Linked DNA regions of Homo sapiens: region 1 is linked to region 2. The links come from fine-mapping of genetic effects on gene expression. A gene starts in region 2. The other region holds a variant in brackets. All regions are shown on one strand. Distances are from middle to middle. Region 1 overlaps PRPF19 (pre-mRNA processing factor 19). Region 2 holds the start of SLC15A3 (solute carrier family 15 member 3).

Region 1 (5,372 bases), 61 kb after region 2:
TTGAGTCTTGCTCTGTCACCCAGGCTGGAGTGCAATGGCATGGTCTTGGCTCACTGCAACCTCCGCCTCCTGGGTTCAAGTGATTCTCCTGCCTCAGCCTCCCGAGTAGCTGGGACTTCAGGCGTGTGCCACCACATCTGGCTAATTTTTTTTTTTTTGTACTTGTATTTGTAGTAGAGATGAGGTTTCACTATGTTGGCCAGGCTGATCTCAAACTCCTGACCTCGTGATCTGCCCACCTCGGCCTCCCAAAGTGCTGGGATTACAGGCGTGAGCCACCGCGCCTAGCTATATTATACTTTTATACAACTGGCAGTGTAGTAGATTTGTTTATACCTGTATCCCCACAAACGTGAATAATGCATTGCATTGTGACATGATGATGGTTATGACATCACTTGGTGATAGGAATTTTTCAGCTCCACTGTAATCTTATGGGACCAGTGTTTGTGTGGTCCGTCGCTGACATGTCATTATGTGACACATGACTCTATGGCATCCTGAACTGCAGAAGGGAGTAGGGGCCTAAGGCTTCTAGGGGGTGGTGGTGACACAAGTTATGTGGGGGGATGGGGAGGAAGTGCACTACAGAGTCTCTCAGGTAATAAAAGTTGTCTCAGAGCAGACCTTAGATAAATAATGCATGACAGTCTGTGACAAAGACTGGCATCTAGTCTTCTCTCTTGTGAGACCAGTTCATTTTCCCTGGTTGAGATTCCCAGGAAGGGGATTCATGATGTTCCTTTCAGATGACCTGCCCTTAGAGAAAGAGGGGCAAGAGACAGGAGGGCAGGACATGGTCAGAGAGACCTTGGTTCAAAGCCCTCAGCGTGCCAAACCACCATACTTTGGGGTATTGTTTTCTGAGATCCAATATTACTTAACCTCTCAGAAAAGTGGGAATGGTAACTATAGACTCAGTGGGGTTGTTGAGGTTTAGATGAAAATACATACAGGTGCTCCTTGATATACGATGGAGCCACATCCTGATAAGTGCATCATAAGCTGAAAATATTGCAAGTTGAACCATGGTAAATCGGGGACCGTCTGTGAATACATAGGTCAGAACGGTGTCTGGCACGTAGTCAGGATTTGCAGTTGTTCTCACTCAGCATTGGGTCTTAGTCTGTGGTGGGATAGAGCAGTGAATAAAACAGACCCGATTTGGGCACTGATGTAATTTATAGTCAGGTTAGTAAGGCAGATGTAGATTAATTTCACATGTACACATTTAATTGCAATTATAAGTGCTAGAGAAGAAAAGCATGAGATGCTGAGAGAATGGGTAACAGGGTTTCTAACCTAACAGTTATGTGGCCCTGGGTACGTGACTTTCCCTTTCAGATCTTGAACTCCTTCATCTAGAAAATGGGAATATTGGCACAGCTTTGCAGGGTGTGACAGCTGGTGTTGTGGAGATGGCATGCTAATATGCTGGTAACAGGGTGCCTGATGCTCACTTAAGATGCTACATGAATGGGAGCTACTGCTGTGTGTGTTGATGAAATTCTCGTCCTCATTAGCAGGTTGTGAGCAGGATACAAGATATTTCTTCTTGCCCCGTATTCTCCTGAGCCCTGCTCAGTGTGTTTGTATAACAAAGGTGTCCATCCTAACAATATGGCTCACCGGTTTTCACCCTGTACTGTACCTGGTGTTTTGATTTAGAACCGAGTTAGGTAGCTGAAAATACAGCGTGAGCTTTTTAATGGGGAGTTGGTTGACTCCAGGTGTGATCCTAAATCTAGAAGGAATTTGGCCAGATGTTCATGAATTTCTGGAGTCCCATGAGGAATGTTGCCCAGCCTCATCTGCCTCTTATCTGGTCCTGCTCTGTGTTAGGGGCCTGAGTGCCCTGGGGTTGGAACACTATGAGCTAGAAAATGCTGATGGACTGTTCCACTTACGAGCAAGTAGTGAGCACTAGGCATAAACAAGCTGAGCTCTGAGGTTTTTCAACTAAACCTAGCCGAACTGCAGTTGCCCAGAAAGCTCAGGTGAGAAGGGGGGGCTGGCATTGCTTTATTCATTCATCCCACCAGTGAAAAATGCCAGGCACTGAGGGAGGCACTGGGGGTAGTGTGCAGGTCAGCCTAGGGAAAACAAACAGGAGCCTGCGGTGTGATAAATACTAATTAGAGAAGGCCTGGTTGTTTGGGAATCTGTTATTAGGGATCAGTGTTCAGACTAAAGGAGGAAAAGCCTTCTCACAGTTGCCTCTTATCTTTCTCCTCAGAGCATAGCGGCCTGACCACAGGGGTGGCCTTCGGGCATCACGCCAAGTTCATCGCTTCAACAGGCATGGACAGAAGCCTCAAGTTCTACAGCCTGTAGGCCCTGGCCCTTCTGATGGAAGCTGGGCCTCATCTCAGTAGAGGGGTAGAATTAGGGTTTGGGGGGGGGGGTGGGGGGAATCTATGGGGGGAGGGGGCTCTGTGGGGTGGGACATTCACATCATTTCACTCTGGTCTGAGTGGTGGCCTGAGAACCATGGTGGCATGGACCACCCTCATCCATGCAACTCCAGGCCCCATGGGAACGGATGTGGAAGGAAGAACTGTCACCCTCTTAAGGCCCAGGGTCGGAGCCCAGGGCCTCTCCCTTCCTGTCGTTCAATGGACGTGGTGGTGGCTGTTCCACACCCATTTTGTTGCAGTTCCTGTGAGACAGGAGAGGCTGAGCCAAGGGAACTGTGAAGGGGATGGGCAGGAGGGCTTGTGCAGGGTTTTGTAAGCAGTGATCTAGTTTCATTAAAAAAAGAAAACAATAACCATAACCACCTCCCCGTGTCTGTCTGCACCAGGAGCACCTGGGACTGGGAAGGTCAAGGGGAGGGAGCACACACTGGGACACTGGCTTCCGGGAAGCCCATCTTCCTTTCCTTTCACAGCTCTTACCCTTTTTTTTTTTTTTT[A/TA]ATTGCACAGCAGAAATAAAAACAAATCTGCAGATGAAATTTGCCATGTCCCTGCGGTTCTTGACCTTGTGTCTAAAGGCCTCAAGTCACTAGTCCTGCCACTTGCCTTGTAGACTTGGTTTCCTACACAAGCCTGGAAGGGAGGGAGACCTGCAGGGAAGATTAGCTGGATCTTGCTGGTGGGGAGGTCTGAGCATCTCCATCAGGGTTCTTTAGTTGTAGGCTTTCTAGCCTGTCCTCAGCTGGCATAAGTCAAAAAGGAGATTTTTTTATTGACTCTGGCGATTGAAAAGCTGTGGTAGGACTGGTTTCGGGACAAAGATCTGATAATGAATGTGCCTTATAGGGAATTCCTGTAGGGTCACGTGACTGCTTTAGATTGCAGGTCAGGAAAGGCCTCTGAAGTGGTGGTGATGAAGCTGAAGCTGGAATGAGAGGGACCTGAGAGGGGAGGAGTGTTGGCAGGCAGAGAGCAGGTTCTAGGGCTGGACTGAGCGAGATATATGGAGGAACAGGAAGGAGGTCATGGTGGCAAAGTCGGGGGAACCATGGTGTACAGTCTGGGGTGATTGACAGTCCCCTGACAAGGGCCATCCCAGTGGAAGGTCGGGGCTGGCTGCCTCCCTGGAGTGGGGTAAGAGGATATGAGGTGAGGAAGTGTGGGAGTCAGTGATTATAGACAAAAAATAGTGCTGAGAAGGGGAGCTGAGAAATGGGGTGTTACCAGGAGGGGAGCTTTGGGGGCAAAGTATGGTAGGCCATATTGTGGACATAACAGGAGACCTCCAGGCATGTTTTGCTGGGGCAGTGTTCTGTTGTCAGGGAAGCTCGGCATGCCGTATCTGCCTGGGAGGGTCAGGATGCCTACTAGCTAGGGAAAGCTGAAAAACCCCACAGTAAAGAAACCACTTAACTTATACAAGTTGAATATAAACCATTTAACTTACACCAGTGTTTATTATTAAGAAAAGACCTGGGCCAGGTGCGGTGGCTCACGCCTGTAATCTCAGCACTTCCAGAGGCCAAGGCGGGCGGATCACGAGATCAAGAGTTCGAGACCGGCCTGGCCAAGAAGGTGAAACCCCATCTCTACTAAGAATACAAAAATTAGCTGAGCATGGTGGCAGGTTCCTGTAATCCCAGCTACTCGGGAGGCTGAGACAGGAGAATTGCTTGAACCCAGGAGGTGGAGGTTGCAGTGAGCTGGGATTGTGCCACTGCACTCCAGCCTGGGGGACAGAGCAAGACTCCGTCTTGGGGAAGAAAAAAAAAAAAGACCAATCATACAGTTCTCCCAAGGCAGGACATACTTTAAAAAAAAGTTAGGACAACTGCCTAGTTAAAAGGTGGGCTAACAACAGCTATGGTTTGCAGATGGTAGAATGGGTCACTCGAGTGGGAGAGGGTTGAGGTCGAACTCCCGACCTCAGGTCATCCGCCAGCCTCAGCCTCCGAAAGTCCTGAGATTATAGGCGTGAGCCACCACGCCCAGCCACTCATTTAATTCTTAAAACAACTTTGCCCTTGGCCGGGTGTGGTGGCTCATGCCTGTAATCCCAGCACTTTGGGAGGCCGAGGTGGGTGGATTGCCTGAGGTCAGGAGATGGAGACCATCCTGGCCAACATGGTGAAACCCCATCTCTACTAAAAATACAAAAAATTAGCTGGGTGTGATGGTGCATGCCTGTAGTCCCAGCTGCTTGGGAGGCTGAGGCAGGAGAATCGCTTGAACCCGGGAGGCAGAGGTTGCGGTGAGCTGAGATTGTGCCACTGCACTCCAGCCTAGTGACAGAGCGAGACTCTGTCTCAGAAAAAAGAAAACAACCTTGCTCTTTGCTGTCCAGCAACTCAGCAGATTCTTGGTCCCTGCATAGGACTTCATACCGCTCTTCCTTTGCAGAACGGAGCAGAAGGTGGGAGCATAGTCCTGGCACTGGACTCTCTGGCTTTGAATCCCAGTTCTGGCACTTAGTTGCTGCAAGACCTTGGACAGATTATTTAACTTTTTTCTGTTTGAGTTTCTTCATCCAAAAGATGGGGATAGTGTACTTACTAGAGATATAGTAAGGATTAAGTGAATGTGACAAGTGCTTAGAATAGGAATTGCACATCATAAATGCTGCTACTATTAACTATTACCACTCTCCTGCTCCCTCTCCCTGGAGTCTGCCCTCCCCAGAGATAGACCAAGTCCTTCAGGAAGCCTCTGGAGCCCATTGCTGCCCTGCCAGGTGAGTGAGCTTTCTTGGAGCCCATGGTTCATGCCTTTAGCATAGCTCTGTGTTACCTTGAAGGTGTTTGCGCATTTGTCTTTCCCACTTAGAATCTTAAGAGCAGAACCAGGTATCCGTTGCTATCATTCATCTCTTCAGCTCATGTCACACTGCTGCCAAGTGGCAGATTGAGAGATTCAACCTTGGGGCTCAGTCCAATGCCCAGGCAACGTCTGTCTCTTTCT
Region 2 (5,372 bases):
GTGACTCGTGCCCTGGGTGACAGTCATGTCCGCTTTTGGAACATTACTTCCCCTATCTGCAAGAGGCAAGTCACCCCTACCTTCTCCCCAGCTAAATGTGTCCCCAGGACTTTCCCCAGTGAACCAGCCCAGCACCTGGCCCCCTGGTACCTTGGAGATGGAGGCTGGGCAGTAAGAAAGACGCTGGGCTGGGTGCGGTAGCTCACACCTGTAATCCCAGCACTTTTGAAGGCCAAGGCAGATGGATTACCTGAGGTCAGGCATTTGAGACCAGCCTGGCTGACATGGTGAAACCCCATCTCCACTAAAAAACACAAAAATTAGCCGGGCGTGGTGGCACACGCCTGTAATCCCAGCTACTCAGGAGGCTGAGGCAGGAGAATTGCTTGAGCCTGGGAGGCAGAGGTTGCAGTGAGCCGAGATCGTGCCACTGCACTCCAGGCTGGCCAACAGAGTGTGACTCTGTCTCAAAAAAAAAAAAAAAAAAAAAAAAAAAGATGCTGCACTCCTCTTTTCTTTGCTACTTTCCTCTCCTGGGTTTTTCTCTGCAGGCCACACTGCTTTTAGAAGCCTTTCCCTTCATCTACCACCCGCTGAACATCACCGATGGCAGGCCAGCACTCTCTCAGCTCTCTGGGTAAGACTCAGCTCTCTGGGCTAAGTCTGAGCTCATCTGCCAGCCTAGTGATCTTGCCAAGAGAGGAAGGAGCTGGATCTGATGTGATCTGAACTTCGTCACCATACCGTCACAGCTGATGACCTAAGCTTCCTCCAAGTCGAGGGATGGTGCAGCTCCATTGAAGTCTCCTCTTCTCTCCTCCAGGCTCTGCCCACCTCACGAGAGCACATGGTCCTGACTGCAGTGACTGCAGGAAGACCTGGGATGGAGGGCTTTGCTTTCTCACCATCCTCTTGGCCTGGCTTCTCTAACATGTTAAAAACTTACAGTGGCCCACAACTGTAATCCCAGGACTTTGGGAGGCCGAAGCAGGTGGATCATGAGGTCAGGAGTTTGAGACTAGCCTGACCAACATGGTGAAATCCCATCTCTACTGAAAATACAAAAATTAGCCAGGCGTGATGGCACGCGCTTGTAATCCCAGCTACTCAGAAGGCTGAGGCAGGAGAATTGCTTGAACTCAGGAAGTGGAGGTTGCAGTGAGCCGAGATTGTGCCACTGCATGGCAGCCTGGGCGACAGAGTGAGACTTCGTCTCAAAACAAACATACAAACAAACAACAACAACAAAAAATCCCTCGCTTTTTTGCTGGTATCTATAGTGCTTTTTTTGCTGGTATCTATAGCTTTTGTGAGACTCAGTTTATTTAGCTTTAGCTTTCCTGATATTATTATTCTTACAAATTTTGCCTTGGGACACTCTTTCCATTCATTGATTCAGGCAATACTTATTGAGCACCTACTATTTGCCAAGCACTGGGAAGCCATTGAGAATAAAACAGTGAAGAGTTAGAAAAGGTCTCTGATCTGATGGAGGGCCTATTCTACTGGTGCTAACTGAACAAGTAATATGTGCTCTGAAGACATTAAAACAAGACAATGTGATGGGGGATGCTGAGAATCCAGTAGGAAACTACTTAGATGGGAAAATCAGGGAAGGTCCCTACAAAGGAGACATATATGCTGAAACCTCAATAAAGAGAAGCAGCCAGCCATGCAAGGATATGGAGGGAGAGCAGTTATGGCAGAGGGGTCAGCAAAGACAAAGGCCCTGAGGCAGGGAGGAGCTTAGCATGGAAGGGGAACCTGGGAGGCCGGCTGGCTGGACTTGAGTGAACATGGGGCTGAGATGAGATCAGAGGAGAGCAGAGGCCAGATCCCCCGGGCTCCTAGGTCAGGGTGGGGCTGGTGCTTAGGAGTTCTGAGGCTGACTCTGATTTAGTCTGAGGTCGGTGTCCCTCTCAATCCCGACTCACTTGTGGTCCTCTATGGCCCGCAGGCTTGTTGAAAGTGCCCCACTTCCTTCCTCACAGCAGCCTCTGTGCAATCCGAATTGCGCTGTGAATTTCCCTGCCACTCAGGAGCCCGGGGCAGGGCTTCACCCCTAGTTCAGTTACCAGGAACCAATCTTTCTCCACCTTCCTGCCCTAGCCCCACTGGGTCTGTCTCTGCATCTGTGAAATGGCTGAGTGTGACCAAATGATGCAGGTAGCCTTTCCACTTCTTTCTACCCGTGGCGCCTCGGGTGGAGGCGTGGAGTTTGATTGGAAGAGGGTAAAGCAAAAGTGGAATCCTGGCGAGAAATGAAACTGAAAGAAAAAATTCCTCCTGGAATTTTTTGGCTCTAAGGAGGCCAGCAGCGGGGGTTTGGGGTAGGAGGCAGAGGTAGAGAAGGAGGGAGGTTTTTAGAAAGCTGACCGGGCAGGAGCCCTGTGACCCAGGCTTTCACTTCTCCTAAACACCCAGTAGCGCCATGTGATGCAGGCAGGGGACTGCGGATAGGGCCTGTGAAAGGGGAAGCGAGGGGAGCCCAGAGTTTCTCAAGAAGCCGAGAGAGGGACAGAGGCTGAGCCTGGGGGGAGGGCTGCAGGGGACTGAGAGGGGAGTGTAGGCAGTGGGGGTGAGGGGGACAGGGAGGAGGTGGAGAAGACGGCAAGGGGCAGCAGGGTGACTGGGGCAGAGGGAGCCCCCACCCCACGCCCAGGGCAGGCCAGGAGTCATAAGGAGAGGGGACAACAGGAAGGGGCGACAAACGGGGAGGGGAAAGGGAGGCGGAGGGGCAGCGAAGTGAAGCAGGGAGGGTCGCAGTGTGAACAAGAGTGCGAGGAAGGGTCAAGGTGGAGGGAGGAGAGGGGAGAGTTAGGGAGAAACAGCTGCAGGAGAGGCGCGGGGAGGAAGCCTTAGGGGTGGGGGAAGGGAGAGGGGAGTTGAGAATTAGGGAGGAGGTGGTAGAGTCCGGGTAGTGAGCGGAGGGACAGGAAGGGTAGGGCAAGAAAGGGAGAGGGGACAGGAGGGAAGGGTGGGCCAAAGCGGTGAGAAAGGAGGGCCAGCCAGTTGGGTGGGGGAGAGGGCCGAGGCCCGGGGGCAGGAGTGCAGGGCTCTGAGGCGGGGAGAGGAGAGGAGAGAAGAGCCGCGGGGGGCCCAGCCCGGAGCCAGGATGCCCGCGCCGCGCGCCCGGGAGCAGCCCCGCGTGCCCGGGGAGCGCCAGCCGCTGCTGCCTCGCGGTGCGCGGGGCCCTCGACGGTGGCGGCGGGCGGCGGGCGCGGCCGTGCTGCTGGTGGAGATGCTGGAGCGCGCCGCCTTCTTCGGCGTCACCGCCAACCTCGTGCTGTACCTCAACAGCACCAACTTCAACTGGACCGGCGAGCAGGCGACGCGCGCCGCGCTGGTATTCCTGGGCGCCTCCTACCTGCTGGCGCCCGTGGGCGGCTGGCTGGCCGACGTGTACCTGGGCCGCTACCGCGCGGTCGCGCTCAGCCTGCTGCTCTACCTGGCCGCCTCGGGCCTGCTGCCCGCCACCGCCTTCCCCGACGGCCGCAGCTCCTTCTGCGGAGAGATGCCCGCGTCGCCGCTGGGACCTGCCTGCCCCTCGGCCGGCTGCCCGCGCTCCTCGCCCAGCCCCTACTGCGCGCCCGTCCTCTACGCGGGCCTGCTGCTACTCGGCCTGGCCGCCAGCTCCGTCCGGAGCAACCTCACCTCCTTCGGTGCCGACCAGGTGAGTGGCAGGAGGCCTGCCCCGGCATACTCCGGCGGGTGTGGAGGGAAGGAGGGCTGGCCCCCAGCGTGACCTGGGACAAACCAGGTCCCCTGCCTGCACTAGTTTCCTGATTTGAAAGAAGAGGGGGGCTAGCCCTTGCAAAACCGATGGCAACCGCAGTGGGAATAACCATGGTTGTTTTTTTGTTTGTTTTATTTTTTGAGACGGAGTTTCACTCTGTCGCCCAGGCTGCAGTGCAATGGCGCGATCTCAGCGCACTGCAACCTCAGCCTCCCGGGTTCAAGCGATTATCCCTCCTTAGCCTCCAGAGTAGCTGGGATTACAGGGGCCTGCCACCACGCCCAACTAATTTTTGTAATTTTTTTTTTTTTTTAAGTAGAGGTGGGGTTTCACCATGTTGGTCTTGAACTCCTGACCTCAGGTGATCCACCTGCCTAGGCCTCCCAAAGTGCTGGGATTACAGGCATGAGCCACCACGCCAGGCAGGTTGGTCTTTTTTGAGCTACTTGCAGGCCCTATGCTAAGCACTTTCACTGTTTAACTGATTTAATACTCTTCACCACCCAGGAAGTAGGAATTATTATGCCCATTTTACAGAGAAAGACACTGAGAGGTTTCATGGCATTAATCAACTTGCCCAAGGTGACATGGAGGGTCGAGGAGCCGAGTAAAGGCAGCTGGACTCCAGGTCCCACCATGAACCTCCTCTCTGTGTGTTATGGGGATGTGCGGGCAGGGCAGGAGCAAGCCAGCTTCTTCCTACCAGCAGTGCTAGAGGCTGTCAGGCCGACTTGCTCAGATCCCAGCTCTGCCTTTCACTAGCTGGAGCCACATGGGCAAGAACTCATTTATATCCTGAATGGGCTGCCTGGTCTTCTCCCTTAGCTCAACCTCTGAGCCTTTCTCCGTTCCCCCTTGAACAGAGCATGGCACGTAGAAGAAATTTAATAAGTATTTGCTAAATGAATGAGTAAATGCCCAACAACACGGCTATATTTTGATAGCTGTTCCCAGTGGGATATTAGACAATAATTTAGACTAAAATGTAATATTATTAAAATAACCACATATGGTGTAAATGAGCAAAAGCAGGAGGCAGGACTGCATACAGATAGGACTGCAGCCATGTGGAAAGACGAGGTGTCAACGAAAGGAAACTGGAAAAAGATTGTCACAGTGGTATGATCAGGCCACTGGACTAATTGCACTTTCTTCTTGTCTCAGTTTATCAAATGTTCTTTGATTGCACATATTATACTCATAAAGGGGACATTTTTCAAAAGGATCGTTTCATCCAATTGGCACCCACAATTCAGCACCTAGCAGTTTCCAGTGTCCTTGACAAGGAGTCACTTGTCCAGCTTGTTTAGGATCCTTTGATGATGACTTCATGCCCCCAGGCCAGCCCTGGCCATCTCTTTTCTTTCTTTCTTTCTTTCTTTCTTTCTTTCTTTCTTTCTTTCTTTCTTTCTTTCTTTCTTTCTTTCCTTCTTTCTTTCTTTCTTCCTTTCTTTCTCTTTCTCTCTCTCTCTTTCTTTCTCTTTCTTTCTTTCTTTCTTTCTTTCCTTCTTTCTTTCTTTCTTCCTTTCTTTCTCTTTCTCTCTCTCTCTTTCTTTCTCTTTCTTTCCTTCTTTCCTTTCTTTCTTCCTTTCTTTTGACGGAGTCTCGCTCTGTTGCCTACGCTGGAGTGCAGAGG

What was found. PIP is the estimated chance that this variant, and not a neighbour inherited with it, causes the effect.
Region 1: its variant is fine-mapped to the expression of SLC15A3 in whole blood (INTERVAL, PIP above 0.99).

What each region holds. Positions count from the first base shown.
Region 1 is chr11:60,888,128-60,893,499 of GRCh38, reverse strand. PRPF19 (pre-mRNA processing factor 19) reads left to right here. Exons shown (of 16, transcript NM_014502.5): 16 at 2,237-2,953. The coding sequence ends at 2,334. Among named protein-coding and RNA genes, the nearest start is that of PRPF19, 16 kb to the left of the region's middle. The variant A/TA (reference allele first, on the strand shown) is at 2,915.
Region 2 is chr11:60,949,295-60,954,666 of GRCh38, reverse strand. SLC15A3 (solute carrier family 15 member 3) reads left to right here and starts at 2,491. Exons shown (of 8, transcript NM_016582.3): 1 at 2,491-3,673. The coding sequence starts at 3,116. RefSeq lists an enhancer at 2,179-2,318 and silencers at 2,499-2,728, 3,049-3,208.